Linked DNA regions of Homo sapiens. The protein of the gene in region 1 interacts with the protein of each later gene in a biochemical or structural test. Each region holds a gene or a part of one and is shown in the gene's direction. Other genes may lie near its edges. The genes, in order: SKI, HIPK2, SPI1 and GLI3.

Evidence for each region.
Region 2: the proteins of SKI (region 1) and HIPK2 form a complex in vitro, tested with the Homo sapiens proteins (one study listed by BioGRID).
Region 3: the proteins of SKI (region 1) and SPI1 form a complex in vitro, tested with the Homo sapiens proteins (one study listed by BioGRID).
Region 4: the proteins of SKI (region 1) and GLI3 form a complex in vitro, tested with the Homo sapiens proteins (one study listed by BioGRID).

What each region holds. Positions count from the first base shown.
Region 1 is NC_000001.11:2,230,958-2,239,073, forward strand, and holds part of SKI (ski oncogene), read left to right. Parts: intron 1-486; exon of another isoform or gene 487-8,116. UniProt on the Homo sapiens protein: May play a role in terminal differentiation of skeletal muscle cells but not in the determination of cells to the myogenic lineage. Functions as a repressor of TGF-beta signaling.
Region 2 is NC_000007.14:139,560,281-139,565,325, reverse strand, and holds the end of HIPK2 (homeodomain-interacting protein kinase 2), read left to right. Parts: 3' UTR 1-3,756; downstream 3,757-5,045.
Region 3 is NC_000011.10:47,367,990-47,376,105, reverse strand, and holds part of SPI1 (transcription factor PU.1), read left to right. Parts: intron 1-373; coding exon of another isoform or gene 374-376; coding exon 377-473; intron 474-8,116. UniProt on the Homo sapiens protein: Pioneer transcription factor, which controls hematopoietic cell fate by decompacting stem cell heterochromatin and allowing other transcription factors to enter otherwise inaccessible genomic sites.
Region 4 is NC_000007.14:42,233,730-42,242,178, reverse strand, and holds the start of GLI3 (transcriptional activator GLI3), read left to right. Parts: upstream 1-4,969; 5' UTR 4,970-5,208; intron 5,209-6,344; exon of another isoform or gene 6,345-6,433; intron 6,434-6,439; exon of another isoform or gene 6,440-8,449. UniProt on the Homo sapiens protein: Has a dual function as a transcriptional activator and a repressor of the sonic hedgehog (Shh) pathway, and plays a role in limb development.

The sequences.
Region 1 (8,116 bases):
GGTGCATGTGTGTGTGCATGTGTGTGTTTGTGTGTGCGCGCTTCTGACCCTGCCAGGCCAGGGCTCAGGTGGCAGCCGCCTGCAGACCTGTGGGCTGGGGAAGGATGCTCGTGGCAGAGCTGCAGACAGACGTAGCAGGCTGGGGCCCTTCGTGTCACACGGGGAGTTGGTTGGGGTGGGCCCGATGGCGCTCCCTGTGGGCTGGGGCCTTTCTTTTTGGGGTGGCCGCACCCTCGTCAGTGCCTGTGGCTGGAGGAAGCCACATGTCGGGGGGGATTGTGGGCTCGTGCAGGCTGCGTAGTGGGTCACCTGTGGCCAAGGCCTGAGCTGCTGGGACACGCTCACGTCACTGTCTTCAGAGCTGATGGCAGAGGATCTCGGTTGAGCAGGGTGTGTCTGCGTTTGTTTTTGTCCGACTGTGGGTCATGTGTGTGCTTGTGGTCTTTCTGTCTTCCTGGGCTTTGCTGGGGGCCCATTGGAGTGGCCAGTGGGGCCTCGTTGTCACAGCTGACACAGAGCAGGGCCCAGGCCACCCGGCTTCTCTCTCCCTGTGGTTGTGAGCGCCGGGGTCCTTGGGCCGCCATAGAGACAGGCCAGACAGGCTCTGGTCATCTCAGCGGATGCCTCCGAGCCGCCTTTCCCTTTTGAAGTCCCCAGCACTGCTCTGAAATTTCATTTACCGATTAAAAAGCAATTCCCAGGCCATACTGACGACGTGCACGGTGTGAGTGACTGCGTCCTCTAGGCCTGAGTGGCAGCCACACAGCCTGGCCCTGGCAGTGGTGTCCTCCGCCTGGCTCCCTGAATGTTCACCAGCTCCTGCGGGTTTTCCTCTCCTCATGCTCCTGGGGGTGGGGCACCCATCCTGCCCGTGTTGCCTCCTGCTCTATGTTCTTGACGTGGGATGGCGGCCAGGGACTCTGCCCTCGCTCAGTGCCTGCCCTTTAGGCTCTGTGACTGTGCACTTGGGAGTTCTGGGCTTCAGGGTCCCCTTAAGTCTCCTCAGGACAGCCGTGTGCGTGTCTCTGTGTGCACAGGAGCGACACATGAGAAGGGAGTGTGGTCTCAGGGTGGGCGTGGACCCACAGTGCCCAGACCCTACTTGTCCTAGAAGGAGTGGCCTGGGAGGCCCCGCCTCCGCCCTCACTGGCCGCCGTTGGCTCCTCCCACTCGTGTCTTGACAGCTTATTCTCGGGATATGTTTTGATTTCTTCACTTCCTTTGTAGCTTATTTTAATATTTTTGATCTGCCGAAGATGAGGGCAGAACAAAGAATGTACTGGAACTCTCTTTGCAGGGCTGCTGCTCCCAGCAGGCCTTCGGGCTCTGCGGAGCCGGAGGGGGCTGAATTGCCTTCCGGGTGTTTGTGGCCAGGCCAGGGTCGGGTCTCCTGCCTGAGTGGGCTGGGTCAGCGCCACTCTCCTACCCATGGTGGGAGGTGGGAGAGGGCGGAGATGTTCCCGGGTCCCAAACCAAGTGGGAGGCAGGGCTGCAGCTTTCTCCTTGGAAGCCTCCTGTGACAGCGGCTGTGCCTGAGCCTCTGGCCTGTCGGCAGTGCAGTGGCAGCATGAGGGGCAGACAGTCTTCCTCCAGATGCCCCCTCATGTCACGGGGTTACAGAGGAAGCCTCCGCTTCTGTCCAGTGGCTGTCGGGCCCGGCCAGCTTCCTGCTGCTGTATCTTGGAAGACCATGTGGGCTGCATGGGTGCTTGGCGAGTCTCCTCTTAGGGACCCTGGGGCTGCTATCCTTGACAGGGGACCTTGTCTCACCTCCCCACTCGGTCCCACACTGGCTTTGTGACCTTGGACGAGTTGCTTAACCTCTCTGCCTCAGTGTAAACTGGGGACTACTGTTTATTGATCTTGGACTTTATGTTTTGAGTGGTACAGGTGGGGCACAGATGGGTCATTGTGCTGCTGGGAGCACTTAGCCAAGACTGGAGCCTCTGAGCCTTCCCCACTCCCACCCCTCTTTCTTCTTTCCGGTCGGCTCGCCTCCTTCCTCGGGTTCTCTGATAGCTGTAGGACTCCATTGGACTACATTTTTTTGTCAGTATAGACAGCTGTCAGAGACGGAGACAAAATGTGGCAGTTGGAGCTGCCGCTTGGCCTGCTGCCTGGGACGCGGCCCCTTGTCCCGCAGAACGTCAGCCAAGCGCTTTCCGTGCAGGCTGATAACAGGGTGGTGCCGTGCTTCCCTTGGGCCGTGGCAGGATCCTGCTCCAAGGGGGGGTCCTGCTCCGAGGGGGCCGGGGTTTCTGTTCCAACAGGGCTGGTGGGGGGGGTCCTGTTCCCAGAGGTCCGGGATCCTGTTCTGAGGGGGCCAGGGTCCTGTTCTGGGCCGGGGGTCCTGCTCCGAGGGGGCCGGGCGTCCTGTTCCTAGGGGCGGTGGGCTGCCTGTGTGAGAGCTGTTCTTCACCTGCCACGTGCAGTCTGGGCATTCTGGTGACTGGAGAATTTGGGTTGTGTTACAGTGTTGTTGCTCTGTCCTGCAGATGCCTGAATTCCCAGGGGTCTTGCAGGTCCCCTTGCCCTTGCGCTGTGTGGGCTGGCGTGGGTCTCAGTGGGCTGTGGGTTGAGGGTCGCTTGGTTGGGAAGCTCTGCGCGCTTCCCAGTGGAGGGTCCGCGACGGGGGTTTTCTGATCCCTCATGCTGGCTTTTGACCCGTGTCACTGCAAGGCTGCCCCTGGCCCCAGGCAGCGTTTCTTCAGGCAGGTGCCCAGCCAGGTGGTCGGGCTTGAGACCTTTGAGTCTCGAGGTCTGTTCTGGGGAATGACTGAGCTTGTGGAGGCCAGGAAGGGGTTGCTGGGCTTGGAGAGCCTCTGGGGAGGAGTTGTGTTTTGCTCTTTGCTGTTTTAAGCTGAAATGATCACAGGAAGGGACAGCATCAAGAGTTTCTTTCTGGGACACCCCTCACTCAGCTCAGCGGCCGTGTGTGGGTTTGGGGCTGTGCTCTCCCAGACACCCTCAGGTCCGGGGAGCACTTCGGGGGCTATCTGTCCCTTTGTCCACCAGCTTCCTTTGGAAAAAGTGTTTGCTGCAAGTGTTTTTCTCCAGCTTTTCGTGGGGTTCCCTGTAGTCTTGGGCCATGCTCTGGGGTCAGGCTCCCGGCAGGCCCTGGTCCCCGTGCAGAAGGCCAGGGTCTGCGGGTTTGGGCTGGTCTGCCCCCCAGGTGAGGGTTCCGGAAAGACGGCCGGCTGCTGAGTCTTCTCAAGCAGGGGAAACAGCAGCTCGAGAGTGGTTCTTGACCTCTGCCCACCCCAGCTGGCTGTGCACGGACTGGGGAGGGCATGGGCAGCTGCCCCCAGGTGGCTTCTGCAGGGAGCAGAGCTTAGTGGTCATTTTCCCGGCATGGTCTGTCATCCGTCTGTCTGGGACCCCTCTGGGAGCTGGGCTGGGTCCCTCGCCTTCTGGGGCAGCAGGGTCACGGTGGGGGGGCTAGTCCTCTCTTTCAGCATCTTGTTTCTCAGCCGTCCCTGCGGCTATTTGTGCAATGTCTGTCTGTCTGAGTCTCCGGGTGAGGGCAGACAGGATATGGTGCGAGGAAGTCTGGGGTAAGTGTGAGCCGAACCCCGCCCTGGAGTCTCTCGGGGTTGTGGGGCCACAGCCCCAGCTTAGGTTAGGCCTTCACTGCTGCTGGCAGGGCCTCCAGAGAGAAGGCGGTGGTTCCGGGGCCTGGGCCCTGACTGTCTGGCAGGAGGTGTCCACGCCGGCGGCCCGGCTCTCTGTGGCAATAATGTGTCTCTTTCTAAGGATTGCGAAAGTTGAGGGAGGATTTCTCCACTGGAAGAATTATGCAAGCTTCAACTGAAATGTTTTTAAAAAGTTTCTTTGTTTTGAGTCAAAATACAGAAGGTGAATTATTTCCCTAATATCTGGGAGAGCTGGAAAAGAAGGCCCCTGTCCTTATTCTTCAGGGCTCTTCCCCTCCTGAGCAGTGGTCACCAGGCCAGGGTGTCATGGAGGGGGGGCTGCCTGGGGACCAGCTCTTTACACCTGGCCTCCAGAGCGGGTGGTAGGGCGGCTCCTTCCTGCCCTGCCCTGGCTGTCACCCTCGTGGTCTGGAGCAGGGTTTTTTTTTGTTGTTATTTTTTTTTTTTTTTGAGACAGGGTCTGTTTCTGTTGCCCAGGCTGGAGTGCAGTGGTGCGATCTTGGCTCACTGCAGCCTCCGTCTCCTGGGTTCAAGCGATTCTCCTGCCCCAGCCTCCTGGTAGCTGGGATTACAGATGTGTGCCACCACACCCAAGTAATTTTTTTGTATTTTTAGTAGAGATGGGGTTTCACCATGTTGGCCAGCCTGGTCTCGAACTCCTGACCTCAAGTTATCTGCCCACCTTGGCCTCCCAGAGTGCTGGGATTACAGGCATAAGCCACTGTGCCTGGCCCCTGGAGTGGGTTCTGCCACGGAAGGCATCCCCGGGGTCTGCGGGCTGGAGGGGTCGCCCCCACTGTGCCACCTGTTCTCTCGAGGCCTGGTTGCCCTCTGCAGACCAGGTGCCATGCCAGGTGACCCTCAGGAAGCTCTGGCTCACCCCGGGGGCTGGGGGGCATGATAAGCGATAGCTCTTAGGTGCTGCTGCTTTGTGAATATGAGAGAGTTCCAGAAGGGCCCCGCTTCCCAGAGCCTGCATGTTGGTTTCACTGTGTGGTACTTGATATTTTTCCAGGCTGCCTTGCTGGGGTGGCCTCGATGGGGGGCCCAGGGAGCCTCCAGCTCTGGGGACATGCTGCCACATGAGCCTGCTTATTTACGAAAATGAAGAACCAGGACTTGAGTGTGAATTTTAAATGAGATTGTGGGGACAATAGTAAAATCCAGACTAGGACCAGATGGACTGAGCACCTGCGTTGGCCATGGCCCGGAGGTGGCGTGGTGGTGCCTGGCGCCTGTGGCCCTCAGCATGTGTCCTGCCGGCCGCCTAGTAGGCCTTCGCTTGAAGTGCTTATTCCTTTGAGTAATGCTCCTGTCTTTTGTTTGGGGGGAAACAGATAAAGGGGGCTTTGAGAGGCGTCTCGGCGTGATCCTGGGAAACGGCCGAGATTCTGTTCGGTGCTTGGTGTTCGTGTCTTCTCTGATTTTACCTTTTTGACTCATAAAGATGGAAGGAGTGCTCTGCCTCGGTGCCTCTGCAGCTGCAGATGCTGAATCGGGGCGTTTAGGCCTGCCTCTTGGGCTGGCACACCTGGCGGCCTTGGTCAGGCCTTCTTGGGCTGCCTCTGCTGGGGTGCTTGTCTCACTGGCCGTGGGGGTTGTTGCCTGTGTGGTTGTGTTGCTGGCTTCAGGGGCTAGGGTTAGGGACGCCTGGTCACGTCTGGGTCCCCAGTTTGGGGGCCAGATTCAATAACTCACTGAATGACTCAGTGGAACTCTGCAGGCACTGGCAGTCAAGGTTTATTGGCAGGTCCATTCTTTGGCTAGAAGGAGAATGCTGTTTCTTTTCTCACTGTTTCACCATTTTTTTTTTTGAGATGGAGTCTTGCTCTGTTGCCCAGGCTGGAGTGCAGTGGCGTGATCTCGGCTCACTGCAACCTCAGCCTCCCGGGTTCAAGCAATTCCCCTGCCTCAGCCTCCTGAGCAGCTGGGACTACAGGTGCGTGCCACCACGCCTGGCTAATTTTTTGTATTTTAGTAGAGACGGGGTTTTACCATGTTGGCCAGGATGGTCTCCATCTCCTGACCTCTTGATCTGCCCACCTCGGCCTCCCAAAGTGTTGGGATTACAGGCATGAGCCATTGCGCCTGGCCATTGTTCCACCTTTGGAAGAAATTGGTTCACCGTCTTCTGACCTGGGGGGCGCTTCTACCCTGGTTCCATATTGAGGGCTGGGAAGTTGCTGGAATATTATTACCCTTGGCTGGTGAGGCTGAGTGCTGATGCTCCTCCCAGCTCTCAGCCCTGCCTGGACCAACTGCGGCTTCTGCTGGAACGTCGGCGGCTGACTTAGAAAGAAACAGCTCCTGTTCTAGGCTTCCTGCAGGTCCCACGGTGCTGCTTGTTTCAGAGAAACGCAGCTCAGGCTGGCGGCCTCAGGTGGGCATGGGTGGCAGGGGATGCCATCACCCAAATCAGGGATCTTTCTCTGTCCTGAGGGTTCCACCCCAGGACCCAGGGCACTAACTGGGTTCTTGTGTGGCCCTTCCCGACCAGACCTGACCCCTGAGCTGCGTGTGTGAGGTGATGGTGACTCCACGACAGCTTGTGTGCCGTTATGGGGGCACCTGAGGACTGGCTGACCTCACCGGGAAGTGCGTCAGGAGTGGGTGAGGGGTGGTGGGAGGGCAGGGAGCGCCCAGCAGGTGTCCAGCGGTGCTGGCGCTGCCTCTGTCTCTCTGTCCACGCCCTGTGTGTATCTGGAGTGGCTTAGGTGCTCCCTGCGGTGCTCCTGGCTGCTGTGGTTCCTGAAGGCTGCGGCTGTGCCGGTGGTTTCCTTTGATGTCAGTCTTCTTCTACAGGGGAAACCATGTTGCCAGGAGAGCCAGGTGTCCGCTAATTACGTTGTGTTGTTCTGCCCAGGAGTGAACCTGTAAGTGATGAGAATAAGAAGCGGCTGTCAGCCTGCAGACCCGCCCTCACCCTGTCCTGGTTGGGGTGCTGCCTGCTGGGAACCCCTGGTCCAGCTGTTGAGAGGAGGCTGACTGGGGGCACAGTTGTTGCAGAGTCTGATGCAGGCTTTCTCTGCCGGGAAAGTAACATGGAAACATTGTTGCTTTTACTATGGAGCAGATGTATCTTTGCCCAGAAACAGAAATGCTCTTGGTTTCTTTTTTTGGAAATAAGGCCCATAGGCTGGGTCCTTCTTGCCCTGTTGAGGGAACGTGTCTGTCCTTAGCGTGGAGGCCAGTCTGGCCGGGTGCTGAGCTCGTCCTGCAGAACACGCGTGAACGCCTCATCCCTGAGGGCCCCGGGAGGCTGGCGCCCTCTGTGGGAGGTCTGAGGTTGGCCCATTTGACCCTATCCAGGACGGGTTACTTAAGGAGTCCAACGGGCCTTGAGAGGCTGATCACCCTCGTGTGGCGGGCGTCTCTCCCCGGTGCCCTCCCGCCTGGTGCTGTCAAGGGCTTCTCTGTGCCAGGCGCTGGGCTGTGGCAGCCCCAGGTCCCCGCCTGGTGTGGCTGCCCACGGTCCAGGCAGCTCCAGGGTGGGCATCCTTGGCTCCCTCCCTCACCAGCTGGCCCTGGGAGGTCTGTCTGAGAGGAGTTAGGCCTCATTGTCCGTGCTCAGAGAACCCGAGCCTTCCTTAGGAAGCAGTTTGTCCCCGTGCCTCCCTTCAGGATCCTGTGGCCTGAGAAGCCTCTGCGTGGCAGTGGATGGCAGCTCCAGCTGCCCGTGGCCCTCTTTTTTTATGGTTTCCCAGATGACTGGGCCAAGCTGGGCCTCTGCATCCTAGGCATGCTGTTCCCTGCGCTTCCCTGGAAGGTCGGCGGCCCTGCGTGGACCTACACGGTACCCAGGACAGGCCTGCCATGGCACCGGTTGGGCCTCTGGGCACAGGGTGCTCTGCCTCCATGGCCCTGACAGGCTCTGATGCCTGAGGATGGGGGCCGGGCACTCCCAGCCTTGAGACTTCCCTCTGCAGAGGTGGCACAAGCCCGGGGCCCCAGAGTGAGGGGACTCTTGCCTGCCTGGTGAGGGTGAGCGTGGGGTCTGGACTCTGACCCCTGGTCCAGGCGGGAGAGGAGCACACTGGACAGGGCAGCCGAGCCACCCTCTGCGGAGCTGTGGACACTGCGTGTGTGGTGCTGAAGGTGTACACGTCCACTGAGGCCACCTGCGCCGCTGCCTGTGTCCTGTGGGCTGGCACTCACCGAGTGAGAGCTGTGTGCAGAACCTCCGCTGTCAGCGGGCCAGGCCACACTGGGGAGGGAGGTATTCCGTGTGCTTGCACTGAAGCCTGCCCCAGGCTGCCTTCTGGGTTAGGGATACCCAGGACCTCCATAGCTGGTGTGGCGTCTGTGAGATCTCAGCTGCTGCTTCCCTGGACGCCCGTGTGGACCTGGAGGGGGGTGGGGACCCGGCCTGGCATGGTCCCTGGCCACCTGCCTGGTGCTCCGGGTTGTGCCGTTGGCAGTGCCTTCGCTCTGCCTCACCTGCTGCCTCCGCCTTTCCTGGCTAC
Region 2 (5,045 bases), on another chromosome or scaffold:
TAGAATCTTTTAGAACTTTAACTCCATTGGAAGCAAACCTAACTAATCGGAGTTTGAGATCCTGGTTGGTTTCAATAGGTATTCTGGAATTCTGGCAGAACACCTAAAGATTTTTTTTTTTTTTAGAAGGTTTTAGATACATTATCTTACACAAACTGTGACCTAATGGCAATAATTACCTCAAATGTGGGCATTCATCCTGGTTTTAGCCTTTTTTGAAATCATGTAGCCAGCTTGATCTTGGAATTTAAAGACTATGAATTCTCTGTGGGCTGAAAATAATGATTACTTCATACCCCCGGTCATCGTTGCTTAAGTGAATTCTGAAAATAGCTCATCTTTACAACAAAAATTAAACCAAGGAAGAGATTATTCTTTGTGTGTTGTACTCAAATGCGATGTTCAAATGCACATGTTAAGTATATATGTTTTTAGCTACTGTAAAATGCTGTTAGCCTTCTAAGCTATCAAAACAGTCACATTTTAAATGAGTAAACTAAACAATTGACTGTGGATACTTAAGCATATTTCTGGCTACGTTTTATAGTTAAAGTGTTTTATAGTTTACATTTAGACTGGTACTTTTTAAAGAAAAGTTCTGTTTATAACTGACATCCGCAAACCCCAGTGAATGCCTCTTAGTTGGAGGTTGTGTCTCCCCCAAGGCAAGTGTGTTGTCCCAGACTCTTCTGTAGTCCAGCATGCGCACTTCCCTCTGGATTATTACTTTCCACGTGAACTCAAGAGAACATGAAAGGCAATCCAGATGGAGGGAAAAGGTGTGAGTCCGCAGCCCGGGCCAGATGCGAAGGTCTCATGCGTGTCGTCTAAACACTTGTCTTCAAGGCCTTCTCTCTGACATCTTGGAAGAGTCATTGAGAACAGATAACCTGGTTCATTGATTTTTGTCTTGATTTGAATATTTAACTTATTAATAGATCCACTGATTTCCAGGCACCAGGCAGTAGAAGAGACTGGGATTCAGGTGACCATGAAGGCACAGCTGCTACTTCTGGGCCGGGGGTGATATTTTGATCAGCGTTTTGTAGGGGAGGACCATATACCCCTATTCCCATGGTCGCTGGCTGGGTTTTCCATATATCTGCTGTCATTTATTCGTTTTCCCCTTAAAAGCAAAATCAATGTAAAAGGCTATGTTTACGTTTTACTCATTGTCCAGCTTAGACTCAAAGTCTAGTTCGGTGGGAGGGGGACCTTAGCATCCTCTCAGAGATGGTCAGGGCTGAGCAGGAGGAGGCAGAGACAGAGGGGCAGCTCAGCCTGGTCCATTGAGACCCACTCTAAACAGACATCATATTTGGAACAAGAAGATGCTTCGAGACAGGAATGGGCCCCACTGTCATGCAGAAACAGACTGGGGGAATGGCAGTTTCCCTGAGTCTTGGTTTCTTTTATGTTTTCTCTTGTGCCACCACCAAACTGCAGAGGACCTGCTGTGACCTAAAGGGCATTCCTTTAGCAGATAAGACCTTGAAAACTGCAAAACACCTGGGACCAGGGAGCTTTTAAAAAATACAAAAAAATACCACATTTGCTTTTTCCCTGTGAACTGTATTGACAGCGTGTTCTTAGGACAGTCTTTTGGTGGAAATGTTACTGTAAAATAGTTTTCATCTCACCCCTCCTAATCATACTCCCACTTTCCTGTTTGTGTGGTGGTGTTGCTGTTTTTTCCTTTACATGAATTAACCAAATGAATTTTGTGTCATTGTTTTTGGGGCTTATATTTTTAAAACATAGAAATTGCCTTTTGTTCATTTGAAAAGTAAGTATGTTGTATCTGAAAAAGGGCTCTGCCTCTGCTCTCCCTCGCTTCCTTGTAACCAATCTCCAAACGAATCTCTCCTGGCACCGCCCCCTTCCTTATATAGGGTCACTGTCCCCGGGGCCACCTCTGCCTCCACCCTGCTGTCACCACTGCCCTGGGCCAAGGCACCCAGGACTCCCAGAAAGCGCGAGAGCCAGCAAGAAGGCCCCACTCAGCCTTGAGACTGGTGGTCACACCTCCCTGTCAGAGTCGCCTGCTGGGCTGAAGGGGCAATGGATTGTCATTGTTGAAATTGTTTGGCTCAGGTTATAAGGAGGAACTTGGGAAGTAGAAAGTGACTTGACCATGTGCATCCTTGGTAGCTTCCTGTAACTAACAAATGGAACAGAGAGCACACCCCCGCCCCGCCCCACCCCAAGCAGATGTTCCCGTCAGCGCTGCCCTGAGTCAGTCGGTCCCCCGTTTCTGCTCTCCTCCCTTTTGTGTTCCTGCTCACTTCAAGCTTCTTCCATGGACTTTCCAGGGCACAGTCATCTCTAGCCCCCAAATCATCTCTTCATCCTCTGTGTGTGCATTTTTTTAACCAAATGAAATAGACAAGAAAGTCATACTTTGGGGCAGCAGAATTTCTAATTTAGTAGAATCACTGTATAGAGATAGATGTTGATATATATGTTTGTGTATATATATCAAACCAAATTGGATAGGAGAAGTATAGCTTTACAGATGAGGAGAAGGAGCTCTTTAGAGGTCGGAGTCAAGACTGGTGTCTTGGACGTGCATGGGCTGTGTCCCAGGCCACTCCGCACACATGGGGCTGAGGCGTGGCGCCGGGCCCTTGTCATCCACCTCACCACGGCAGAGCCAGCAGGCCCTGTAGGGTGCTGCTGCTGTCTCACTGGGTCCCAGCTTCAAGCGCATCAGTGGGTGACGGGGGCAACAAATCAGAGTGACTGGAAGTTTCCATCCCGTTTTGCTTTGACCACGTGTACTGAGCTGCAGCCTCTGATACTCTGTCACGTTTCCAAAAATGGTATCCATTAGGATAGAAAGAGAATGGATCTGCAGAAATGTTTACCTTTCAACTGCTCATGAATTCAGGACACTGGATAGAAAGACTCACTCCCCAAAATGAGAACAGGGAAGAGGAGACCCGGCGACACTAAGTCACCAGGTCCAAGGAACGTGGCTCCCTCCCCAGGGTCATCTCACCTAGATCTTTCTCTCCCAGGTCATCTCAGCTCAATCTCAATAACCCTATGAAAGCCCTGGTCTGTTGTGTTCCTTCACCGTACGGTTTCTGTAATAAAAAGTGTTAATCCATGTTAATCTGTGTGAAAATTATTGCGTGCAACAGTATTTTCTCGTGTACCTCTTTTTCCTATGTGAATTGTCCCTCTTTTTTATTTATAAATGTCTACTTTTGTTTTTTTAAAGACAAACCAATGTGTTGTAGACCTATATGTAACCTATTCCTTAGTCTCATATTATAGGTATGTTATAAGAATGGATATTTTACTTGGCTTTAGAATGTTTTACAAGAAAACTAATTCTTAACTGATCAAGTCCTTGCTACTAAAATGCTTGTGTTTTTCATCATGACGTCGTGTGCTTCTAAATTAATCATTTTCGTTGTAGAAAAATGGAGTGAATTTATATTAGTCTTGGAAACTAATAATAGCATTGTAAATTTATGAGATGATTTTAACAGAAAAAATATAGAAGAATATAGTTATTTTAATTGTAATATTACTAACTGTAGGGTGAGAAAAAGGGGGGGGGGTCCCATTGTGGTGAACTATGTTATAGCTTGTTACTCATAGTTTCTTTTTGATCATTTTTTCGGTCTCCGAGGTGAAATGACTTATTAATTAAAATTTGTAAACTCACATATGCATATTGTATATGTGTAGAAATGTAATCACACTTTGTCTTGGAATTACATTAAACTGTTTGAAATCACTGTACACCTGCCTGGCATGCTTATTTATCCTGGAACCAGACCTGTCATAAAAGCGAAGAGGTTATTGTTACAAGTAACATATTTGGGGTTTGTTTGTTTATTTAGATGGAGTTTTGCTCTTGTTGCCCAGGCTGGAGGGCAATGGCACGATCCTGGCTCACTGCAAACTCCGCCTCCCAGGTTCAAGTGATTCTCTTGCCTCAGCCTCCCGAGTAGCTGGGATTACAGGCATGCACCACCACGCCCGGCTAATTTTGTATTTTTAGTAGAGATGGGGTTTCTCCATTTTTTGGTCAGGCTGGTCTCGAACTCCTGACCTCAGATGATCCACCTGCCTCGGCCTCCCAAAGTGCTGGGATTACAGGCATGAGCCACTGCGCCGGGCCGAGATTATTTAATGGCTCTGGAAATGTGTAGAAGCCACCACTGCATTGAACATTTGCAGAGAGAGGTGGGGGGCCTTGAGATCACATTACTACCAATTCCCATGCAGTTGAGTGGGGCTAAGAGTCTCCCAGCTTCCTGCTGCCTCTTCCAAGCCATTTCAGCCCCATCTGCTCCCAATCTCTGTCCCTGACACCTAAGGTGTGGCTGTCACCTGCTGTCCTGGAAGCTTTCCAATATGCATCCCGGATCCTCCGCACCCAGGCCCTGCCGTCTCACCAGACACCATCAGCACCCGGAGCCTCGTGGCTTGCTGGCCCATTGCCAGGGCCCTTGCCACTGCGCACTTGAGCTACGTGCGCCACAGCCCCGTCCAGGCGCTGTGCCTGCAGCAGCTCCACCTCAGCAAGCCTAAGAAACGCCACATCCTGCTGGGACTGGGGTTTCCCAGCCTTCTGACACTCTTTTTGTCTTAAATTATGGTAAAATATACATAATATAAAATTACCATTTTAAGTGGACTACTAGCAACGTTAAATACGTTCACATTATTGTATAGGTGTCACCACCATTTCCAGAATTTTTTCATCATCCCAAACACAAGTTCTGTCCCCATTAACAACTCCCCATTTCTCCCTCCACCCGGTGCCTAGCAACCACCCTTCTACTCTGTCTCCATGAATCTGCCTATCCTAGATATTTCATGTAAGTAGAATCATATATTTGTCCTTTTGTGTCTGGTCTATCTCACTTAGCATAATGTCTTTAGGGTTCATTCATGTTATGGCATACATCAGAATTCCATTCCTTTTCATGGCTGAATAATATTCCATTGTATGGAGAGATCACATTTGGCTGATCCATTTATCTGTTGATGGACATTTGAGTTGCTTCCACCTTTTGGCTGTT
Region 3 (8,116 bases), on another chromosome or scaffold:
ATTATGAGTGTGAGGGTGACACAGGGATCGTGTGGACATGTGCATCAGTGTGACCAGGAGAGGTGTGTGGGATGAGGATGGGGGCACACAGGCGTGAGTGTGAGTGTGAGCGTGAGGTGGCTATGGGGAGTAGCCCAGCAGAGGGGGACCCTGGTCCTCTTCTGACCTCTCACCCCCAAGGTCCCTGTCACCCCTTTTCAGGCCTTCTGGGTCCCCTGCCCCACTCTCTGTCCCAGTTCCAGGCAGAGGGAGGGCTGTAGGTCCAACGCAGCCACTGAGCCAGGGAAGGTGATGGGGACCCAGCGTGCGGGGGTGCTGCAGGCCTGGCTGGGGTCTCCCACCATGGTGCAGGCCCTGACACCTCCTCTCTCAGCAGCCATCAGAAGACCTGGTGCCCTATGACACGGATCTATACCAACGCCAAACGCACGAGTATTACCCCTATCTCAGCAGTGATGGGGAGAGCCATAGCGGTGAGTACGGGGCCTGCCACGCCCCCATCCCCCAGCCCAGCCTGGGCTCCTGGGGTCTGGAGAGAGAAAAAGAATAAATGATTCCCAGGACTTCTTTGGAATTCTGAGAATCAGATCAAGTTTGCTCTCAAAGGCAGTGAACTGCAGCATCATCGCTGCACCCCCACACCTGAGCCTCCATTATGGAGCCTCTGCAGTGTGTCAAGGTGCGGGGTTCATTTCTTCCATGGTTATCTGCTGGTTCTGTCCTTGTGGTCTTCTTTATAAACAAGGAAACAGGCTTAGGGTGCTAGGAGACTTGCACAAGGTCACACGGCTGCTGGGTGGAACCCAGGTCTGTCCGCTCCAGGTCCTGTGCTTTTTTTTCTGCCCCTGCCTAACTACCCACCTCCTCCTCTCTGTTCTCGTCACTCTCTGTCCCAAACTCCCCGCCGGCACATCCGCACTTCCTGCCATGTGTGGTTGGCAGGGTTTCCTAACTGTGGCACTGCTGACATTTTGGGTGGGATGATTCCTGGGTGGGCTGTCCCGGGTACCGTAGGAAGCTTAGTGGCATCCTTGCTTCTACCTACCACATGCCAGGGCCATGGCCAATCATGACAACCAAAAATGTCTCCACCCATTGGCAGATCCCCCCGGGAGGCAAAATCACCCCTAATTGGGAACTGCTGGGCCGAAGGAAAACCTATGAGAACCTCTTGTTCAGCAGAGGCCGAGGCCCCCAGTTTGCTGAAGTGGGAGGAAGAGGCCTGGGCCAGGGTGTCCTTCTGTCTGTCCAGTCCTTCTGGGTCTGACTGTCTGCCCCATAGCCCAGCCTCCGTCCTGGAGCAAATTCAGGGGATGGGAGAGAGGCATTAGGTGCCTGGGACCTGAGCAGGGGGCTGCGGGAGGTTGCCCAAAGTGGATCTTGGCTTATTGATGTAGACATCCCTGACCCAAAGCGAGGTGGCCTAGTCAGTGGGTGAGTCGTCACTGGGGAATTCCTCAGGGCGTCTGGGACCCGGGCAGACCAGCGACTGGGGTGTCTGCACCTCAGAGGGCAGAGGCCCACAGCCTAGGAAGGTGTCACTCCTGAAGGCCACCCCTGCGGCCAGTCATGCCTGTAGCTCCATTCTGCAGATGCACCTGTGGCGGTCTAAACCTGATGGGCCCAGCTAGGGATCCACATGTGCCTGGTCCACATTTAGGGCCCCAGATTCATCCGGAACTCAGACTGGAAGCCATATCCCAGGGGTAGGCGGATATGCCTCCAGGCCACAGCTGGGAACGCACAGGCATCTTTTAGAATCTTTCAGGGCTAGAAAGCCTTTAAAATATCCTTTTTAATTCCTTCAAGCTTATTTGTAATTATGTAAAAAACACATCCTCTTGGTGGGAAACCCAGGCAATGTAGAGAGAAAGTCCCCCTCCCCCAACTCCATCCCCAGCTCTCCCTACCAGAGTGAAGAGCCCGGTCTGGGGGACCCAGAGACCACGCACCCACCTTCCCAAGCGGTTCCAGGACTCCAGGAGGTCCCGCTGGGCCCTGGGACAGGCGCCCCCTGGTGGCTCGGGTCACCACAGACAGTGCTGTCAGGCCTCCTCCAACAAGGACGCATTCTCCCTGGCCCAATCCCTCTTCAGTTCACTGGGCTTGGGTGCGTTTCCTTTGGGCCTTTTGCAGCCTCAGTTTTCCTTCCTGTAATATGAGGGCGCTGCCCACATAGCTGGAAACCAGTGAGCCTGGGGCTGGGCCTGATGGAGTGAGCACTTTAGAGAAAGCATGTGTTTTCGTGGCTCAGGGTCCAAGCAGGTTCCTTATATCTCAGGTGGGACTCTAGGAATGACTCCTGATTGGATGCCTGGGCACCCCATGTTGGTCATGAACCCCTAGTTCCTCCAGAGACTCCACCAGTGTTCCCAGGTGTCCTCGGCCTTGGCTCTGTCCCACTCTTAATCACTGCCAATCAGGGCATTTGGGCTGTCCTTTTCTTTTTTTTTTTTTTTTAGGACAGTCTTGCTCTGTTGCCCAGGCTAGAGCGCAGTGGCCCAATCTTGGCTCACTGCAACCTCCGCCTCCTGGGTCCAAGCGATTCTCTTGCCTCAACATCCCAAGTAGCTAGGATTACAATCGTGCACTACCATGCCTGGCTAATTTTTGTATTTTTAGTAGAGATGAGGTTTTACCATGTTGGCCAGGCTGCTCTCAAACTCCTGACCTCAAGTGATCCACTTGCCTCGGCCTCCCAAAGTGCTGGGATTACAGGTGTGAACCACCGCGCCCAGTCTGTCCCTTTTTTTTGATACGGAGTCTCGTACTGTCGCCCGGGCTGGTGTGCAGTGGCACAATCTTGGCTCACTGCAACCTCCGCCTCCCGGATTCAAGCGATTCTCCTGCCTCAGCCTCCCAAGTAGCTAGGATTACAGGCGCCTGCCACCACGCTCAGCTAATTTTTTGTATTTTTAGTAGAGACAGGGTTTCACTATGTTGGCCAGGCTGGTCTCGAACTCCTGACCTGGTGATCCGCCTGCCTCAGCCTCCCAAAGTGCTGGGATTACAGGCGTGAGCCACTGCGCCCGGCCGGGCTGTCCCTTTTTATACCCGCTGGAAGGTATCGTCTGAAGACTCAACCATAGAGACCCCCACACACTTCTGTCAATTCCTGCACGTCCTCTTTGTCCACATTTTTAGGTACTGAAGCTTAGTGAAAAAGCTTTGGCCCAGCCCTGGCTCCATCACTTACCAGCTGTGAAAACTTGGGGCAAGTAACATAACCTTTCTGAGTCCCTATTTCCCCATTTATAAAACTGACAGCATGAAAATACTTACCTCCTAGGGCTGTGATGATTCAGCGAGGTAAGGCATATAATCTCTGAGGTAAGGTAACGTGCAGAGGACGAGGCCCGTGCTAGCTTCACTGCATTCCTCAAGGCAGGAGGGACAAAGCGGCTGGGGAGTGGGAAAAGCACAGAGGGCTCTGTGAGAGACCAACTGGGTTATTTTCCACTGACCCAGGGGACAGTCAATCTGCCACCCACCCCCACATCCATGCACTCACCCTCCCATCCACCCACCTACTCGTCCATCCTGCCAGCCGCTTCCCATCTGATCCACTTTTCCTCCCTATTCCATCCATTAAATAGTTTCTGAGTATCAGACACTCTTGTAGGCTCTGGGGAGTCCATGATGAGCACCAGACAAGGCCACTGCTCTCACAGAGCTCACTCTCCAGCGAGGGGATGGGGACATAAGGAATTAAATAGGCTGGGGCGTGGTGGCTCATGCCTGTAATTTCAGCATTTTGGGTGGCTGAGGTGGGTGGATCACGAGGTCAAGAGATAGAGGCTATCCTGGCCAACATGGTGAAACCCCATCTCTACTAGAAATACAGGTGGTGGTGCCCACTTGTACTCCTAGCTACTTGGGAGGCTGAGGCAGGAGAATCGCTTGAACTCCGGAGGCGGAGGTTGCAGTGAGCTGAGATCGCGCCACTGAACTCCAACCTGGTGACAGACAAAGCGAGACTCCAGCAAAAAAAAAAAAAAAAGAATCAGACAAAGAGACCATTTTCTGCAGATGTAATGCGGAGTGTCTACATGGGGGGCTGCTTTCATTTGAGTGGTCAGGGAAGGCCTTTGAGGTGGCAGCTGAGCTAAGAGAAGGAACTCGTAATTCACATGTGACCATAGGTAGGGGAGAGGTATTCAAGGTAAAGGGAACAGAAAATGCAAAAGCAGAAAGGACCCTGACAGAGGACCAGAGAGGCCAGTGAGCACAGGGCAGGGGACAGAAAGGGAAGCCAAAGGGGTCAGCTGCTCACGCAGGGCGAAGGCCATGGCAGGCATTTGGATTTTATCATACACACCATGGGAAGCCACTGGGGAGTTCTGAGCAGGGAAATGACATGACCATGATCTGAATAACCTTCTGTGTATGTGTGTGTGCTGAAAATTTAAATACATTTACAATCTTTTTTTTTTTTTTTAAGACGGAGTTTCACTCTTGTTGCCCAGGCTGGAGTGCAGTGGTGTGATCTTGGCTCACTGCAACCTCTGGCTCCCAGGTTCAAGCGATTCTCCTACCTCAGCCTCCTAAGTAGCTGGGATTACAGGTGTGCACCACCATGCCCAGCTAATGTTGTATTTTTTAGTAGAGATGGGGTTTCACCATGTTGGCCAGGCTGGTCTCAAACTCCTGACCTCAGGTGATCCTCCTACCTTGGCTTCCCAAAGTGCTGGGATTATAGGCATGAGCCATCACGCCTTGCCTTTTTTTTTTTTTTTTTTTTTTTTTGAGATGGACTCTCGCTCTGTCGCCCAGGCTGGATTGCAGTGGTGTGATGTCAGCTCACTGCAACCTCCACCTCCCGGGTTCAAGCGATTCTCCTGCCTCAGCCTCCCGAGTAGCTGGAACTACAAGCGAGTGCCACCATGCCCAGCTAGTTTTTTGTATTTTTAGTAGAGGCAGGGTTTCACCGTGTTAGCCAGGATGGTCTTGATCTCCTGACGTTGTGATCCACCCGCCTTGGCCTCCCAAAGTGCTGGGATTACAGGCGTGAGCCACCGTGCCCGGCCTCCAGTCTTTCTATTCCAGTGCTATGTAAATGTACAAATGAAGATGTGGAATAGAGACTTAGAGCATTATTTATTGGCAAATATTTATTGAGTGCCTTTGATGTGTCAGGCAGCTTGATTTTTCAGTTAGAGATATATTTTATTTACTTGTACAATCAGAATTCAACTTTAGTCATTCACAACACACACACACACACACTCACATTTCTCCACACATCCCCAATTCATTACTCTATATGGTAACATTTGTTAAATCAGTATTTGAATTTTCCACTGTTATGACCATGTGGCTATTACTCACAGCTGAGCCACATGGCATCCTTTCTTTACCTGTACTTTCTCATATCCATATTTCTTTTAATTATTATTATTTTTTTATGAGACAGTCTCACTCTGTCGCCTAGGCTGGAGCACAGTGGCGCAATCTCTGCTCACTGCAGCCTCAGCCTCCTGGGTTCAAGCAATTCTCCTGCCTCAGCCTCCTGAGTAGCTGGGATTACAGGTGCCCGCCACCACGCCCAGCTAATTTTTGTATTTTTAGTAGAGATGGGGTTTCGCCATGTTGGCCAGGCTAGTCTTGAACTCCTGACCTAGTGATCTGCCCGCCTCGGACTCCCAAAGTGCTGGAATTACAGGCGTGAGCCACCATGCCTGGCCTTTTTTTTTTTCTTTTTTTTGAGACGGTGTCTCTCTGTGTTGCCCAGGCTGCAGTGCAGTGTGCAATCTCAGCTCACTGCAGCCTCCACTTCCCGGGTTCCAGCAATTCTCCTGCTTCAGCCTCCTGGGTAGCTGGGATTACAGGTGTGTGCCACCATGCCCAGTTAATTTTTATATTTTTAGTAGAGGTGGGGTTTCACCATGTTGGCCAGGCTGGTCTCAAACTCCTGACCTCAGGCGATCCACTGGCCTCAGCCTCCCAAAGTGCTGGGATTACAGGCGTGAGCCACTGTCCCCGGGCCTCATCCCCATATTTCTGAGGGGAAATGTAGCAAGGAGATAAGAACTCTTCTGAAACCAGGCTGCTGAAACTCATCCCCCATCTCCTCCATTGCTATCCGGGTGACCATGGGCAAGATCTCCAACCTCTCTGTGCCTCAACTTCTTCATGACAATACCAACTTCACAGGATGGCTGTAAGGACTGAACGAGCTACTGTATGTCAAATGCTTAGAACAGTGCCTGGAAATAGCAAATGTTTTGTACAGATTTGTTATCATGGTCGTCTCCTAAGAAAGGGTGTGTGGGAGGTGAGGTTTTTGTTGTGGTGGTGATGGTTTTATTTTGTGTTTTGCCTCATGTCTTTTATTCTATGCTGTCACTTAATTAATCATAGTTTGGCTGTGTATGGAAATCTAAGTTGAAAATCATTTTTTCCCTTAGAAATTGGAAAGCATTTTTCTACTGTCTTCTGGTTACTAGAGTTTTTCCTATGAAGTCTGATACCACTCCATGTTCCTTTAAATTTCTTTTATAATTAACCTAGCTTTTTGTTTGTTTCATTTGTTGTTTTTTTTTTTTCTCTCTCTCTCTTTTGTTTTCTTTCTCTGGAAGTTTTTAGTATCTTTTCCCAATGTCTCATGATTCAACTGAGTAAGCTTTTTAAAAGGTCACTCTGGGTGGAGAGCAGATGGAAAAGAGGCAAGAATAGGAGCTGGAAAAAAGAACATTGAGGAAACTATTGCAATAATCCAGGAAAGAGATGGTGGTGACCTGGACAAGGGTGGTGGCAACAGAGACAGAAAGGGGGGGACAGATTCAAGATAGACTTTGAAGGGCTTACAGGATTTGCTATTGTTTATTATGCTTTTTGTTTGTTTGTTTGCTTTTTTGAGACAGTCTCACTCTGTCACCCAGGCTGGAGTGCAGTGGCGTGATCTCGGCTCACTGCAACCTCTGCCTCCTGGGATCAAGTGATTCTCCTGCCTCAGCCTCCCGAGTAGCTGGGATTACAGGCATGCGCCACCACACCTGGCTAATTTCTTTGTGTGTATTTTTAGTAGAGACAGGGTTTCACCATGTTGGCCAGGCTGGTCTTGAAGTCCTGACCTCAGGTGATCCACCCGGCTCAGCCTCCCAAATAGCTGGGATTACAGGAATAAGCCACCATGCCCAGCCTATTACTCTTTTTAATTGTGGTAAAATACACATAATATTAACCATTTTTTAAACCATCTTAACCATTTCTTTACATTTTAAGTGTATAGTTCTGTGATATTAAATATATTCACGTTATCATCACCATCCATCTCTATAATTATTTTCATCTTGCAAAACGGAGACTCTGTATTCACTGAACAACAGCTCATTTTCCCTCCCCCCAGCCTCTGGCAGCTACCATTCCACTTTCTGTCTCTATGAATTTGCCTATTCTAGGTACCCCGCATGAGTGGATTCACACAGTATTTGTTCTTTTATGCCTTCATTTAGCATAATGTTCTCAAGGCTTACCCATTTACCCATGGTGTAGCACGTGTCAGCATTTCCTTCATCTTTAAGGTTGAATCATATTCCATTGTATGCGCGCGCCACGTTTTGCGCATGTGCCACGTTTTGCGTATCCAGCCGTCCGACACTTAGGGTGTTTCTGCCGTTTGGCTATTGTGAAGAACGCTGCTATGAAGAAGGGTGTGGAAAGACCCTGTTTTCAATTTTTTTGGATATATACCCAGAAGTAGGATTGCTAGATCATATGCTAATTCTATTTTTATTTTTTTGAGACGGAGTCTCACCCTGTCACCCAGGCTGGAGTGGAGTGGTACGATCTCAGCTGACTGCAACCTCCGCCTCCCAGGTTCAAGTGATTCTTCTGTCTCAGAATCCCGAGTAGCTGGGATTACAGGTGTCCACCACTATGCCCGGGTAATTTTTGTATTTTTAGTAGAGACAGATTTTGCCATGTTGGCCAGGCTGGTCTCGAACTCCTGACCTCAGGCGATCTGCCCGTCTTGGCCTCGCAAAGTGCTGGGAATACAGGTGTGAGCCACTGCGCCCGGCCTATTTTTAGTTTTATTAAAAATTAAACCATCGGCCGGGCACAGTGGCTCATGCCTGTAATCCCATCTCTTTGGGAGGCTGAGGCAGGCGGATCA
Region 4 (8,449 bases), on another chromosome or scaffold:
TACCCAGCTTTAAGAAAACTCAAAGAAAGACAGAACATTGCTGCCAGGTGGATAAGAGATGGTCATGAAGGTAGTGGAGAGGCCTCAGAGGGATAGAAGAGACAGGTGAAACCACCAGGTCACATAAATAAGTTCCTAGGGAAGGAAGGAGAGACCTCAAGAAAACACTGGTTACTGAAGTGTTTGGTTTGAGACAACTGAGAGAAAATTATTTTATTTAGAAAAAGCGGGATACAGAAAATCATCTCTAGGCTGCCTAAATGATGAGTAAAATCCACCATGCTCACCTCATGCCCGCTGTGAGCGAGTTTCCAGAAGAGCAGGCAAGGATCTGAGTATAGGGTATGGGTCAATGTCACACAGCATCCACAGGGGCTCTGAAATTTGCAGAAATCCAAAGAGAGGGTTTTAGATCTTCCCAACTTGTGGGATTGGCGGAGGTCCAAGCCAATTATAGCTACATCTCCAAGGTGAAGAGGGACACAGCAGACATCTGGGTTACATTTATAATCCCAATGTTCCAGGAAGATGGAAGAACAAGTTACGCGGGTGCTGAGTGAGAGACCCCAAGAAGGGCCCCGTGTGCGATGCACTTAAAAGTATTCTCCTTCCTGGCAGCTGGCCAGTCAGCGTGGGGAGGCTCAGGCCCAACCACTCTTCACCAGAGTGTTTCCTTTCCCAAGGCACTCCTGAGAGATTCATGTGGCCAGGGATCTACCTTTGTTCCCTAGTACTTTCCTTACATGCAGGCTGGCTGGCAAAGTGTGTGCAGAACACGCAAAATCACCAGGACCCAGGAAAGCAGAGTGGGCAGGAGGAAACCTAGAGAGGTGAGCCTGGCCAAGGGGAATATCGGATCCACTTGGGAAAGGTCATTATTTTCTGGGAATGCAAACTCTCAGATTGATTATGAAAATGCAGCTGCCTCTGGCCACCTTCCTCGGTTGCCTAAAGAAACTTTGTATGAAGTGTGAATAAAGTGGAGCCGAAAGATGAAAACAGAACCCAGTAGACGTTATTGGAGCCCCTAGATCCTGTTTTGCCTAAAGCATGCCTACATGTTTCTGGACTTTTTTGTCAATAAAAACAGCCACCCAATCCCTCTGAAGTTTAACTTAAGTCAATTGGAGGTGGAATTTTGTCCCATGCAACTTGAAGTTTATTAGTACACATGGACTATCCTCCTGGAATTTTCCAATAATTAACTGGGTGCTACTGTGCAGGGAGATGGAAGAACTGCCATGGTAAGTGAGGGGAGAAAAGTATTTGTATAACATCGGCCCATGGTAGGAATCAGAGGAGCACGTGAAGTTTGTTTCCAGGTTCATCCTTTGTTCTCTCTCTTGCGTATCCTTCATTCCTCTCCCACTATCTTTTGCAGTGTTGTTAGGAGTTGAATTATGTCCCCCAGAAGAAAATGTTGAAGTTCTAACCCTAGGAACCTCAGAATATGATCTTGGAAACAGGCTTGTTGCAGATGTAATTAGTTAAGATGAGGTCATTCTGGAGTAGGGTGGGTCTCTAACAGAATATAACTCGTGCTTTTATAAGAAGAGAAGCCAGAGACAAAGGGAGAATGCCATATGAGGACAGAGGTGGAGACTGAAAGGGAGAAGCTGCAAGCCACGGGACACCCAGATTGACAGCCACCACCAGAAGCCAGTAAGAGGCAAGGGAGAAATTTCTTTTCCAGGTTTCAGAGGGAGTGTGGCCCTGCAAGACACCTTACTTTTGGACTTCAAGCCTCTAGAAACTATAGGACAATACATGTCTGTCCTTTAAGCCATCCAGTTTTTGGTACTTTGTTACCATGGCCCTAGAAAACAAATGCAAGTATCTTCAAGTATCTCCTACTTCACTGTTGCAACAACAAGAAAGAAAGTCTGTCTTAAAAGCTTAACTATTCTGAGGACTTACTATATTAAAATTTCTTAAGATATCTGCATTTGAAAAGAGAACTGATGAGAGATGGCAATAAGTCAATCTATGATAGAATTTCAGACATCAAGGAAGGGCAGTGCACAGAATCCTGTAAGTCTCTTAGTGCTGTGTATCACTACAAACAAAGGTTGTAGCATTGTCTTTCTGGGTGTCTTTGGGTTTTTACAGATGTCTCAGGAGCAACTGCAGGAAAGGGAAAGAGAGAAAGGCTTAGGGGGATTGGGCTCCGAGACCTCACTCCAATTTCAACCATAATAACTCTTCTATATTTTGGGATTCTACGTAAGATTTAATTTGGAAAGCGTTCTGGTGTTAACACAGAGAGAAAGTCACTGCATTATGACATTATTTAACCCACACTCAGGCAAAGTGGGTTTTTTACCCCTCCACTGTTTCTGCAAAATGTGCCTACTTATATGTATGGGTTTACCATTAAAGCAGAGTTGGACACATAAGAGACACAGCATTATTCTTCCTCTTTTTTGTTTAGCTATTGTGACGGGCATAGGGGGAAAGATTAGCTGCTTTTGCTTTGTTCTTGTCTTTTAAGAACTGAAAAATCAAGATCTTCATGATTCAAAATGTGCTATAAGACTGAAGTAAGAGTCGAAATATCTAGTTTATTCTATTATTTGATGATTTATTGGCTGTCTTTCTTTGTATTTATTTTTTGCCATTGGGTGAACAGAGTAGGCTATCAGGATGTACTATTTGTATTCATGTGATTGAGGCAGAAGCAGTACATGAATACTAAAAACAATTGTAACTGATGCTGGGAGTATATAAAGGAAAGAGTGGCTTGCAATTCTCTTCAATTGTAAAAGCATAATTCTTACACACTTGTAGCCCTCTATACTTTTCCATGTATTTCTCATTGGAAACCCTCAGCCATCCTGGGAGGTACGCGACCTGGCACTCCTAACACTATCCCCTAGATGGGCTCAGAGCCTATGGAGGCTCAGAGAATCCTCCCAGGCCTGAGGCCAGTTAGTGAGCGCGGAGATGGGGCTGCCACAGGGCTTCTGAGTCTCGTGCTCTCTGCGATGAGTCAGTGGTGTTTTGTTTTTTCCTGAGCCGTGAGGTCGAGGGAAATCTTAAAACAAATGGCTAACTAGGGCCTTTAGCCCCACCTTACCTCCACCACTTCCACCATAAAACCTTAAGTCTGTCTCTGCACTTGTCATGTCATTGTGACAAGGAAGGAGTCCCAAGAAACAAACAATGAATACCACCCTCAATTTCGTTAAAAGATTCTTCAGTTAAGCATTTGAATCTCAAAATGCTCTTCAAATTCTAATAGCTCATCATTCATCCACCCACACTCTTCCTTCAGTCAAGACACTTGGCGGCAACGCCACACAAGCAACCCGGAGCTCCGGGGCACTTCTGGCTGGGTGGACCCGGCTTAACCAGAAAGAGGGGATGTTGGAATGTCACAGGGGCTTTCTTTTCTTTCTTTTTCTTCCTGTGTTTCCCCCCGAGAACTCCTTTTTTAAGTTACATGTCCAGGTTGGATATATTAAAATGACGCAGATGAACAAGGACTGGATGGTCGAGGAAGGAGGCCAAATAACTTTTACTAGCATGGGCCTCTGAAAATGAAGCAGGGACAGAGACACTTTGTAGCTCAAGGAAAAGCGGCACGTTAGAGACCAGGCTCCAAGCCTGGGGTCTTTGTTTTTGTGTCTTTTATAAAGTGGCCCATAGGGACAGCAGGCTGTGTGGTGGGAGCTCCTCCTCGCTTCGCGGATTTGGCCCCGAGGGCAGACGAGTCCGGTGGAGAGAAAAACCCTGAACTTCCAAAGGCATCATCCCGCGAGAGGGAGTTTCGGGGATGGCTTTGGGAAAATGTAAAACAAGGAGATGGGGAGCCAAGGATGGGGGGCGGTGGTAATCAGAGAAGCCTTAAAAGAATAAAGGGGAGTCCAGCCCTTGAGCAAGAGTGAGAAAGAGAGGCTGGGTGGGAGAAGATGGGAGCAGACAGGACGCAGCACGAGTGCCAGGGCGCGCATTTGGGGGGTGTCCTGGCGGTGTGGAGAGAGAAGAGAGAGGGCGCGGGTGACATCACGCCCGGGCCCCCTTCCCCTCGCCGGGTGGGTGGGGCTTCGGCGCGCCGGGAGGGCGCGGGGTCAAGTAGGGGGAAGAGGAGGAGCAGGCATGAATGTGTCTGTGTGAAGACCGGGGAGGGGCGGAGGAGGAGGAGGAGGAGGAGAAGGAGGAGGAGGAGGAGGAGGCGGCGGCGGCGGCGGCGGCGGCGGCGGAGGGCGGGGAGGGAGCGCGCGCGTGGCTCGCGGCGCCCGGGCTCCCCCCCAGCCCCCGACCCCGGCCCGCGACGCGCCGCCTCCCAGCCGCCGCCGCCCGCCTCGCAGCTGGGACCCACTCCGGGCTTGGGGACCCGGCGGGCGGGAGAAGCGGGGGCTCCCGGCGCGGCCTGGAAGGAGCGAGAAAGCAAAAGTAAGGCGAGCAGCACTCCAAGTTTTCCCAACTTCGCCCCCTGCGGCGGCAGGCGTCCTGCTGCTCAGCGCGTCCCCTCCGAGCCCGAGAGTGGCTGAAAGAAAAGGGACTGGGCGGGGGCCGGGGCGGAGGAAGAGAGAGTGCGAGGGAGCGAGGAGAGTCCGGCAACATCTGTTAAAACTTGGGGGAGGAGGAGCGCGGGGAGGAGGAGGAAGAGGAGGAGAGAAGGGAAGGAGGGAGCGCGCGGGAGGGGAGCGCGGAGCCGAGGGACAACTTTTCCACCCCGTGAGTAGTGCAGGCGGTGCCAGGTCGGGGCGGGGGGCTTCTCCACCCAGCACGGGGCACCAGGCCGGGATGGGACCTTTTTCCAGAAAGTCGATTGGATGCCAGGAGAGGCGTACGGCTGGGGGTTTCTTTCTTTCTCTTTCCCCTCCCTCCCGCGGTTGAACCAAATCAGAACTGTCACTCAGGGCTTGTGAGTCAGAAGGGATCGGATTACACGATCCCCGAAACTGATGCCGGAGCTGCACGAGCGGGAGGGAGCGGGCAGGGGCAGCGCCACCGGCGCGCTCGCACACTCGCACTCGCGCACACCCGCCGCTCCCACTCACCCGCGCCGCTCTCCCGCCTTCCCCGCGCGCCCCGCGGCCGCCCGCGCCGCACCATGCCCGCGGCGGGCGCACCCCGCGCCCAGCCCGGCCGCTCGCGGTAGCCGTAGCCGCCCGCGGCCGCGCGGAGCGGGGAGCCGCCAGCCTGCGCCCCGTCCGCGGGTCTATGGGAAGTTCGGGGACTTGACAGCCGCTGCCGCCGCAGGTACGTCCCGCTCGAAGTTCTTTGTTTCGCGGACCCCGCAGCCCGCTCCTGCGGCCGCGCCCGCGCCTCCGGGGCCAGAGGTGGTCCCCAGCGTGGGGACGGGATGGAGTGAAAATGGCTGTCAAAAGGCGCCCAGATTTAGAGAGCCGCCGGTGAGGCGTCCGAGCAAGGCTTGCATTCGCTCCCTCCTCCTGGAAGGTCCTTTCCGAAGAGTCCGACCCGCGGACCGGCCGGAGACGGATTGGAGAATTTCACCTCCCGGAGGGGGGACGAAGTTTGCCGCAGTGGTGGCGGCGCCCCTCGCCTCCGCCCCCATCCAAAGGGTTCAGAAGAACTCCGCGAGCCCCGCACGCGCCTGGCTCCTTCCTTTGCGCGGTGGCGCTCTACGGCTCGGGCTTCGGGCGCGCACGGCGCTCGGGATGGGCGGAAGGAGGCGGGAGGCATGGTGGGTGCGCGCGGGGACCTCCGCCGCGGGGGCCGCCGCCGCTGGGGCTTCTCCAGCCCGGGCTATGCTTCGGAGGGCGGGGGTGTGGTGTGAGCGGATGGAGAGAGGCGCGCCTTCGTCGTCATAGAGGAAAAGTGAAAGTTGTACCATCTGTATATGATTTGGGATTCTCTTATTTCTTTTCCTTTCCAGGGGCAGCGCGCACAGACACACAAAGTAACCGTGGTCCATGCAATAATCATTTAAGGTGCCGCGTTTACACAGAGCAGCAGGGGACAGTTACTTTCTTGAGTAGCAGCGGGAAAACGGGCGGGAGAAGGCAGAGAGGGTGTAAATATTGATCCCAAACTTGCAGAGTTTGTGAAGCGACTTTTAAGCAGATTGTCCGAAGCGGACGCTCCACCCCGCACCCGGCCTTTTATCCTTTCCTGAACTTTGTGCTCCTGTCCCCCATTGCACCTCCTTCTGTAAGATGCCGTCCCCCGAGAGGCGCTGCACCCCAGGCTTCCCTGCCTGACCCCGCGTGGAAAGAGGATTAAGGAGGCTCCCTCCGCCGCTGGTCATCCTGCCCCAACTTCTCATCTCCCCAGTGCAGACTGCCGGGTAGATTCTGGCCTTGGGTACAGTGCTCATGGCCCTCTGCCAGTTTATATGTACATATATTTATGTAAAACATTTTCTCCCAGCTCTTTGCCAGCTGTTCCACATTTTCCAGCTGCCACTTCAGTTTGAAATGATGGACTGTCTGCGTCTCCAAGTCAAAGAACCCTTTAGTCAAAGGTATGGAGGGCCGGCCGCTGTGCAAATACATGGCAGTGCCATTAGCCGGGCTGGTATTATTAGTTCTAAAAAATACCTCCTGCTCCCCTTTTCCTCTCCTCCCTCTTCTCTCCAGTTAGGCTTTCCAGAGCACAGTATATACACTTTGCTGAAAATTCGAGTAATTAGGCCTTTCCCTCTTAAATGTGATTTTTGTACAGAATTTGGATGAGGCCGTTTTTTTAGATCCCTGAAATATGTGTCTGGTGGAAATAAATTAACTTTTAAAAATAAAAGAGTTTCAGCTTGAGCGCATTGGGCATGGCGGGTGGGGGGCCTGCACCCTGGCCGTCTGAAATGAGCTCTTTTCAGTCTATTTAAGGCAGGAACCATTCATCCTCCCCATGCTACACTTTTTGTGTTGTTTGATGTCTTAGCATATTATAGACCGAAATCTACAAGAATTGACCTAAAGTATTAATTTTGAGTATTTATGTAATTGCTCGGTAATTTTGAATAGGTGCCTTATTGATTGATTCCTGTAATTATTTCATTTAGGTTTTAGATTAAAAATTAATAGTAGTCTGACAGTTTCTTAATTACATGTGTCAAGATTCTTTTGAAGGAGGAAAATGCTATGTTTTAAAATAGTGAAATAGCCTCAAAATCTCTTAATTTTTCTAAAGCAGAACAGTATTTCAGTTGAGGGGATATATTAAAGCTGCCGGGACTGGTTTTAACAATGTAAACTCTGTGAAGTATCTGAAGAATTTGTTTATGTTAGGAAATATTGGTCTTAACGACCTGGTACACAAACACTTTGGCCAGTTAAACTATATTCAAACCTAAAACAAACATGAAATAACATTTAAATTAGTTGTAATAGCATGCTTATACAGAGTAGAGAGTTTATTTTATACTAAAAGCTATTTAATTAGAAACTCCCCGCCTAAGGGGAGATCCTTTCAGGGTATGCAATTCTTAAAGTCAGCCTAGGGAAGCTTTGGTTTAAGATGCATGAATGAGTCCAATGTGAGAGGTGTCTAGTGAAATTTCACACAAGCAGAAACACTTTAAAGATATAGATTGTATTATTGTTAGTAGGCTGGTAGGTCCAACTCAGATGCCTACCAATTCCCAGTGCCTTTAACATGCTTGTGTTCCTTGACTGAACCTTGATATAAACACATTTCTATTGTATATCTAATTTGCAAAGGACCATAGACAGAAATGAGAAAATTCAATACTGATGAAAAATGGCTCTGTAGAGTTATTTCATTAATTATTTAATGAAAGAATTGTTAATTTATCAATTCGATGTGCAAGCCTAAAAGTTGGACTTTCCTTTGTTTCTTGGCCAGTGAAGTTTCCTTAATTACCTGCATGCTGTAAGCATTTCAGACTTCCTCTGTGCTTAGCCATTTAGAGGTCCTTCCTCCTATGTAAGGTATCCTGCTTACTGAGACCTCTTCTCCCCCTCCATTTTTTGAGGATAGAGTTTGGGAGCTTATGAAAAGAAACAATTTAATGATCATTGTTGCATGCACTCACTTACATGGAGACAGTAATGTACTAAGAAAAACCAGTCTTGAAGGAAAAGTGAATCAATGAGTCATGAAATCCTCAAGAAAACCTTAGCAATGGAATGTTAATGCTTTTAGACTATAGTAGATTATCTTAAAAGTCAGACTTTTCTTCTTTATGCAATTGTTGTAAATCCCCAGCTAAAGAATTCTTTGAAGGAGGTTTTAGTTTTGCTGGCATTCATATTCTGAGGTCGGTCTGATTTGTTTTGGAAGATTCAGTAAATTTTCTGCCAACTTATATCATGAGAGGCAATTAAAATGCTGAAATGACTTTATAGGACACACACACACATACACACACGTTTGTTAAACAAAAGGTTCCACTCTAATAATGACTTCAGGTTGTCTTTTCATTAAAGCCTAGGAGAAGATACTGCCCTTCTCTTCACGTTGTCATTTTTCTAGATGAAAATTGATCTGTTTCTGGTTTCAAAGCAAATAAAGGGAGACA